Homo sapiens: one gene and its partner. The protein of the gene in region 2 purifies or fractionates together with the protein of the main gene of each other region. This does not show direct contact. Each region holds a gene or a part of one and is shown on either strand. Other genes may lie near its edges.

The links. Proteins that work in one complex are often made in the same cells at the same time.
Region 1: the proteins of CREG1 (region 2) and DLD fractionate together in Homo sapiens (co-fractionation; one large-scale study listed by BioGRID). This does not show direct contact.

What each region holds. Positions count from the first base shown.
Region 1 is NC_000007.14:107,900,997-107,904,682, forward strand, and holds part of DLD (dihydrolipoyl dehydrogenase, mitochondrial isoform 1 precursor), read left to right. Parts: intron 1-741; coding exon 742-821; intron 822-1,328; coding exon 1,329-1,397; intron 1,398-2,481; coding exon 2,482-2,551; intron 2,552-3,686. UniProt on the Homo sapiens protein: Lipoamide dehydrogenase is a component of the glycine cleavage system as well as an E3 component of three alpha-ketoacid dehydrogenase complexes (pyruvate-, alpha-ketoglutarate-, and branched-chain amino acid-dehydrogenase complex).
Region 2 is NC_000001.11:167,550,834-167,555,259, forward strand, and holds the start of CREG1 (protein CREG1 precursor), read right to left. Parts: upstream 2,930-4,426; 5' UTR 2,909-2,929; coding exon 2,555-2,908; intron 1-2,554.

The sequences.
Region 1 (3,686 bases), on a different chromosome or scaffold from region 2:
GATCAAAATTAATTTTCAATTTTTTATCTTTATTTGAAAAATGGCCACAATAGTTAATTGAATATTCTGGTTAGCCTATTATCTTAAGGTATGTAAAAATTATCAATATGCAAGTACAAAACATATTTGTTAAATATTACATAGAAGCTGTTTTTTCCCTCATATTTCAGAAGTTAAGGACCTGAAAAAGGTAATAGGTCTTAAATTTATTGGAAATACTAAAGCATTATATAAAATTATCTTATTTAATTCTAACATCAATCATTGAAGGCAGTGTTTTCATCCCCATATTACAGAAAGGTTAAGTCATTGGGTCAAGTTCATACAACTACTCATTGGCCGTGCTGAGATATGAAGCCCAGAATGTCAGATTCCAAAGCTCAGGCTCTTTGCTTCATACATACTTGTCTTCCAGTATCACTAAATTCCGTCAGTTATTAAATCAATAGAATTTAGGAAGGTCAGTGAATACAATGTGAGTGTTACAGAACTCAGTTGTGTTTCTGTATGTTGTAATGAATAGAAAATAATAGAAAATGAAATTTGAGTATTTATGCCATTTTTCAGTAGCATCAAAGAGCATCAAGTAGTAGTAATAAAATAGTGCAGAAACTATGTAGAAAATGCTGATTTGTACTGTAAGAGGTTTAAGTATCGGGTTATTTGTTTGCTCTTCCAAAGAGCTCTTTTTGGTAAATATTAAGCAATTTACTATTTTATATCAATTTGCTTTTATCGTAGTTGATGCTGATGTAACAGTTATAGGTTCTGGTCCTGGAGGATATGTTGCTGCTATTAAAGCTGCCCAGTTAGGCTTCAAGGTAAGGTTTGAACTCAAACTAAGTATTGATTTATTTTAATTTGGGAAGGGTTGATCATATTTATAAAGTACTTTGCAGGCAAAAACATGGTAAATACTTCCTTAACTCTATAAATTACTTGTAAGCCTGAGACTAATAAAGATTAGGTTCATTTGGTTGTAGTATTCTCTTGGAATGGAAAGTGAAATCTATTAGTTTTCTTCTCTTCCCAGTACTTTTCATTTTGGCATCTAATCACACTTTGGAAGATACAGTGATAGAACTAAAAGCATATATTTGGTAATGTTAAGCACACAAAAATATCTTTTAGAATAATTCACTTTTGGGTCAGCCCAAAAGTGTTTATTATTATTCAAATGATAAATTATAAAGGACTATATATTTTAGTCTGTGAAAACATAGCCCGAATAGCTTGTTTTGTAGAAGAATTAAGACATATATTTGGAATTTTAGTGATCTGAAACATTGAGGTTATGTGCAGTTAAATAATGTTTTCTTTGGTTGTAGACAGTCTGCATTGAGAAAAATGAAACACTTGGTGGAACATGCTTGAATGTTGGTTGTATTCCTTCTAAGGTGAGCATGTGTTTTGTACAGCACAGAGATTGTTTTTGGCTAGCAACCAACTAGAAGGATGGATTGAGACTAGATTAGACAAATACACTTGTTAAAAAACAATCCAAGTTGTGGCACATTTCACACAGAGAAAAAAAAGAATGATAAAAAACACACTTCTCTTTTGTAAAACTTAAAGAGTGCTGTCACTAGTCTGCCACACATTCCTGAAATAACTTCCTTGTCTCAGAATGCCTAGCTTTCCATTCAAACAGACTCTGATGTTCTAGTTTTTTCTCTTTATCTTTCCTTCACCAGTGTAACAGATAATAGATAGTAAATTGTTCTTTTAGGTCCTTTTTGTATGTAAACATGACTGCCTTTTTCACCTGCCACCCTGAAGTGTGTACTTATGCCTTTACTTTTAAAGAAAGTAAAAATGTCTTTTTCATTCTTGTTTGTTGAATGTTTTTCACATCATTATTGTTTGTCTTTGATTAATAAGAGAAACTGAATTGGTGTAGTGCCATATACTATTCCATGTAGAGAATGCCATGTCTTTTTTTTAACTTCTTTTTAAATTTTTATTGTAAATTGACAAATTACAATTGTATATATTTATGGCATACAAAGTGGTGTTATGATTTATGACTATAATGTGGAATAATTTAGTCAAGTTAATTAACATATTCATTACCACAGTACTTATCATTTTTGTGATGAGAACATTTGAAAGAGAATATCGGCCGGGCGCGGTGGCTCACGTCTGTAATCCCAGCACTTTGGGAGGCCGAGGCGGGTGGATCACCTGAGGCTGGGAGTTTGGGACCAGCCTGACCAACATGGAGAAACCCCATCTCTACTAAAAATACAAAATTAGCCAGGCGTGGTGATGCATGCCTGTAATCCCAGGGACAATTGCTTGAGCCCGGGAGGCGGAGGTTGCGGTGAGCTGAGATGGCGCCATTGCACTCCAGCTTGGGCAATAAGAACGAAACTCCGTCTCAAAAAATGAAAAGAAAGACTATCATTTCATAAGTGCTTTTTGATTATTTGAAGTCTGTTTATGAATATTTGATAATTTGATCTTTTTAATTTCCTTTAGGCTTTATTGAACAACTCTCATTATTACCATATGGCCCATGGAAAAGATTTTGCATCTAGAGGAATTGAAAGTAAGTATACTTTTCATGCTTAATGATATTACCAGACTGCTTGACTTGGCTCTTCTGTCTAAAGACTTAAATGTGTCTAACGTACGCATAATAGATGTTTAGTGAAGGAAGAGTAAAATAAATAATCTAAAAAATGTGGAGAGATTTACTTAAAAAAGAAGGCCTAAATCCAGATTTCTCCCAGCCAAGTATAACCAAGCCTAACCCTGCAAATCCAGATTTCTACCATTATATCTTCTGTTCCTTTGCCAACTTTTTCCTGAGGTTTGCCTTTATGTGTTTTTGAAGAGTCAGTTTTCATTTCCTAAAATCTGGAAATCACTGAGAAGGCTGGATTCCTGAGTACTATGGGGAGATAGAGGAAGGAAGGAAGGCCCACTTAAGCTGTTGATAGTAGAAAAATTAGAGGAGAGAAAGAGTGAGGCATAGCGGAAAAGGAAGAGGACATTTCATAACGTATCTTGTCTCCTGACATACTTTTTGAGCTGTTTTAATCTTTTGTCTCCAATTATTGTTGTTGTTAGATACTTCCAGAAAGGTAGTCTCTTCTGGGCAGGACCTAGTCATAACCTTGGGTTGTTACTTTTCCTTCATTTGTTTCTTTACAGAGGTAGGTTTGAGGGGCTACTTAAGGCAATCCATTGGGTATAGAGATGATGTATATGCACTAAAGCAAATAGAATATCATACTAGTTGAAAAATGGAATGACGTAAAGAAAGAAGAGCTAGGGGTAGTCAGGAGACCTGCATTGTAGGCAAGGCTTTTACATCCTAGCTCTGTGACCTTGGGTAAATCAGAAATCTCTCAGAGTCTCTTTTTCCTTATCTCTAATATATGTGTTGGTTATATGAGGTACTTTCTAAGATACCCTTCTTACCTCTAAAGTTTAATTGAGTTGAGCATTTTTATCTAATACTGTTGCTTCAGAGTTCTCTTCTGAGTTGAATGAGTGATTAAAACCTAGGTGATTAAACTTTTTAATGTTAAGCTTCTGTATTTGAAATTTTTAAACGTGTATTTTTTATTTGTTTTGTTTCATGAAATCTAGCATTTTCCTTTATTTAAAATTTCAGATGATGTTTTACTTTGTCATTTCTACTTACATATCTTCCAGACTTATAACCATCGTAAAGT
Region 2 (4,426 bases):
AGTGTATACAATCTTCTGAGGATCGCTGCAGGGAACAAAAGAGTAGGAAACTGACTTTGAGGGATACTTATTTTAGTGGGTCAGAGAAAAAAAACCAAGAGTGACCAGAACAGAAAGGGGCACATCACAAGAAAAGAATGCCAAAATGGAAGGGAGGCTAATAGTAAGAGGTCTTGGTGCAAATAATCAAACCCCAAGATTTCCCTTCAGACTCACTGGCTCTGCAGCCAAACACGGTCCCACTATAAGCTAACATCAGCAACACTGTCCTACAGACATTTACTATACAAAAATGCCACAAAGAAAGAGACATACAAAAGAAACAGCCCAGTGGTAAGTACGTTTGAAGCTCACAACATATCTCTAAGTTACAGAGGACAGGTATTTTACACATGAGAAATGGTCCCAAACCTAGGTCTTTTTGTTCCTTCTGAACGATTTCACCCCCTGTCAATGAGAAGAAATGCAGAGCACCCTGGAGGTCAGGAGGAGGAAAAGAAAAAAGCAGAAACTTTGACCTGCTAATTGATGGAATCAAGTCAGACAAATTCTAATGTGGCCACTTCTTTTCACTGCCATCATGGAAACCTAAAGCCCTGGGTAGGTTCCTTGCCACTGCCCTGTCTATTTCTAGAAACATGAAAGACCTGGGCTAATGTCCTACCTGACAGCCATTAGCTGACTGGTCACAGGGTAAGTCCCTGCACCTCTGAGTCTGTGTTTCCTCACTTCCTAAATGGGGACAATAATACCAGCAACTCCCTAGTCACCTCACAAATTTAAATATGATTATGTATTGGTCAATCTCCCTCCTCCCCCATTAGAATCATCAGGGAGTGGTTTGTGGGGAGGCGGGAAGGGGTGTTGTCTTAAAATAAAATGTGCTTTCAATAAAATACCTTGGCATCCCATTTTTAAAGCCTTCTTAGGTGACTATGATTTGCAGTCAAAGTTGAGCACCACTGATGGAGTGGAGTGAGTTTGTTTTGAGCAAACGCCTAAAGGTGTGGAATGGGCTGGGAATAAGAAAATGGTGAACTGGGGTGTATCTGCCTTAGCTAAAAGAGGGCACTGCTTCTGTTTTTGCTCAAAGAGTGCAGGCCCACAGTGTCACTGGATCTTCCCATTTTTCAAGAAAAGTTAGAGATTTACATTTTAAAGTAAAATCTAAATTTTAAAATGTTGGTAACAAATTCAAATTTATTAAAAACAAAACAGAACTTTGTGTAGGCCAAACCGGTCTGTGGGACATATTCAGCTGATGGGCCACCAGCCTGTGATAGGTGGTTTGAAGAAAGATGAACCTGAGATGAAACTAGGGGTTTGCCCGCTGGCTTTAAACAAGTTACTTAACCTAGGTAGGCCTCAAGTTCTTCATCTGCAGAATGGGGTATATAATACCTACTTCAAAGAATTAATAGAAGAGACAACGAATGGAAGGCAAATGGAAAAGTGATTAATCAAGCATCAGTTTCTTGCATCCTGTCTTTATCAACAATGTTGTACTTTCAGAGTTGAACTCAAATGTGAGAGCTTTGTCAAAAAGACCCTCCATCAAATCAGGCTCCATTCCTGGACTCTGTGTGTCTCCGGCCTCCCAAGCTGGGTGTCTGTGACCCCATCCCTGAGACAGCAGAGATCCATCAGAGTTGTAAGTGTGGCCCTGCACCAGAAGGTGGGCAAAGGGCGAGGAAGAGATACACCTTCAATCAGCTCTGCATCTTACTGAGGAGCCACTATGCCTGTGGAGGCCTAAAGACTGCAGTAATCATTGTAATCGTCCATGATATTGTACGTTAGCGTCTTGCTGCAGGAGGGAAAAGCTTAATTCAGGAAGGGTAAGAGAGTGAGAAACCCTGAAGTCACATATTAAAGTGCTTAAGTACCTAACAATCTCTATGCCCTGTAAAACCTTTAAGAATAGGAGCCCAGGCAGGGCGCGGTGGTTCACGCCTGTAATCCCAGCACTTTGGGAGGCTGAGATGGGTGGATCACGTGAGGTCAGGAGTTTGAGACCAGCCTGGCCAACATGGTGAAACCCCGCCTCTACTAAAAATACAAAAATTAGCCGGGTGTGGTGGCACGCACCTGTAATCCCAGCTACTCGGTAGGCTGAGGCACGAGAATCGCTTGAACCTGGGAGGCAGAGGTTGCAGTAAGCTGAGATAGCGCCACTGCACTCCAGCCTGGGCCACAAAGTGAGATTCTGTCTCAAAGGGAAAAAAAAAAAAAAAGAGAATAGGAGCACAGTTAATAGAGACACTGGGCCCCAAGACGACTGAGAACCACTCACGGATGAGAAGTCCTCGGGCTGCTGGCAGAGAATTTACCCCAGGTGCGTGGCCCAGTGGCGGAGGCTTGTGGGAAATTCCTGGTACCCAGCTGCCCAACATCTGGGACGCTGCAACGCCCACCTACCTGCCTGCGCGGCAGAGAAGCAACAGCCGTTCGAGCCACGCTCCACTTCCCGGGAAGAATTCTGGGGAGAGTGAAGGCTCGCTCTGTGGCCGCCCCGCCCACAGCCCGCCTGGGGAAGCCGCGGGCCCCAGCTCACCTGCAGGTTGCTCACGGAGAGCTGCAGCGGGCTCAGGTAGAAATAGGGCACGCCGCTGCCCGCGCCCGGGGGCCCGTCGCTGAGCGAGAGGACGTCGGCGAAGGGCCGGCCGCGCACCGCCTCCAGCGTGGAGATGGTGGCCAGAGCGCCCCAGTCGGAGACGTGCGTCACGAAGCGGGCCACGCGCGCCGCGTCCTCGCGGGGTGGTAGCGGCGGCAGCCGGGAGGCCTCGTCCCAGTCCCCGTGGTCCCGGCCGCCGCGACCCCGCGCGGGCGACACGAGCAGCGCCAACAGCGTCGACGCCAGCAGGGCGGCGAGCAGTGCGCGCGCGGACCCGCGGGATAGCCCGGCCATGGCGGTGTCTCCAGGAAGAGTCCCGGGCCCCAAGACCTGCAGGGACCCAGCCGGAGCTCGGCGCGCCCAGGCCCCGCCCCCTCCGCGAGGCGCCAATCAGAGCTAAGCACAATGCAGGGGGCGGGGTCCCTCTGCAGCTCCGCAACCTGCAGGAGAAGGGATTGGTTCATCTGCATTCCAATCGCTCTGCCTGCCCTCTTTAAGGATTGTGAATTTGTCCTAAACGGGATATTTGTTTTGTTTTGTTTGACAGGCGGAAAAAGAAAGGCTTGAAGAAATCAAGCAACTTGCCCAAATCGTACTGCTAGGAAAAGACCAGCCTCTTTACACAGGCACACACCCCCTCCTTTTAATACCTTTGGAGATGAATATCTGGCATCTGAGAGGAAATGCTGCATTTTCTACCCATGCGCCTCTTTTCTGTTGAATTTACCATCAGCTCCAAAGAACAGCGAGGGTCCCAGCGTTGTAGAAGCCCAGACTCAGGCTCGTGTACCCCATGTGTAGCTGATGCCAAACACTGACATATAGGTGCTTGGAGATAAAAGTTTATTCGATTTGGCCAAAGCGAGAAGGCGGGAGGGCAAGATCTCTCAAATCCGCCCTAACAAAAAGAAGAAGCAGAGAGTGTTTATGCGGCCAGCGAGTCAGGGAGGGGGAGTTTCAGGGAATCGAGGGAAAAAGTCTGTGTTTCTTCAGTCTCAGATAATTCCTTGAACAATCAGACTTCTGGGCGACAGAAGCTGGCCTCAAAGTACTTCAAAGGACTTATTCCTCCTGCAAACTTTTTCGTAACCCTGAAGTTATTATCTCCTCCTGCTTGATAAAGAAACAGTACATCAGCAGTTTATGATTATGTTGTAGGAACAAGGGATATTGGGCAAAAAGAGAGTTGTCAACATGTGCAAGCAAGGGCCTGATCAGAATTTTCATTATTTCAGTCACTAACAAATGCTGGGGTGCTGAAATCTCAAGGGGCCCACTTACACTAGTAGTAAAGTTAGGCAGAAGCCCGAAAGTTCAAGACCTTTAAAAAACTTTTTATTTACTTATTTTAAAATTTTTAATTTTTGTGGGTACATAGTAGGTGTATACATTTATGGGGTACATGAGATATTTTGCTACAGGCATACAATGCATAATAGTCATATCAGGGTAAATGGGGTATCCATTGCCTCAAGCATTTATCCTTTGTGTTACAAACAATCCAATTATACTTTTAGTTATTTTAAATGTACACTTAAATTATTATTGGCTATAGTCACCCTGTTGTGCTATGAAATACTAGGTCTTATTCTAACTATTTTTTGTACCCATTAACCATCCCCACTCCTCCCCTGCAAGTCCCCCCACTACCCTTCCTGGCCTCTGGTAACCATCCCTCTACTCTCTGTCTCCATGAGTTCAATTGTTTCCATTTAGGCTCCCACAAATAAGTGAGGATGTGTGAAGTTTGTCTTTCTGTGCCTGGCTTATTTCACTTCACGTAATAACCTCCAGTTCCAACTATGTTGTTGC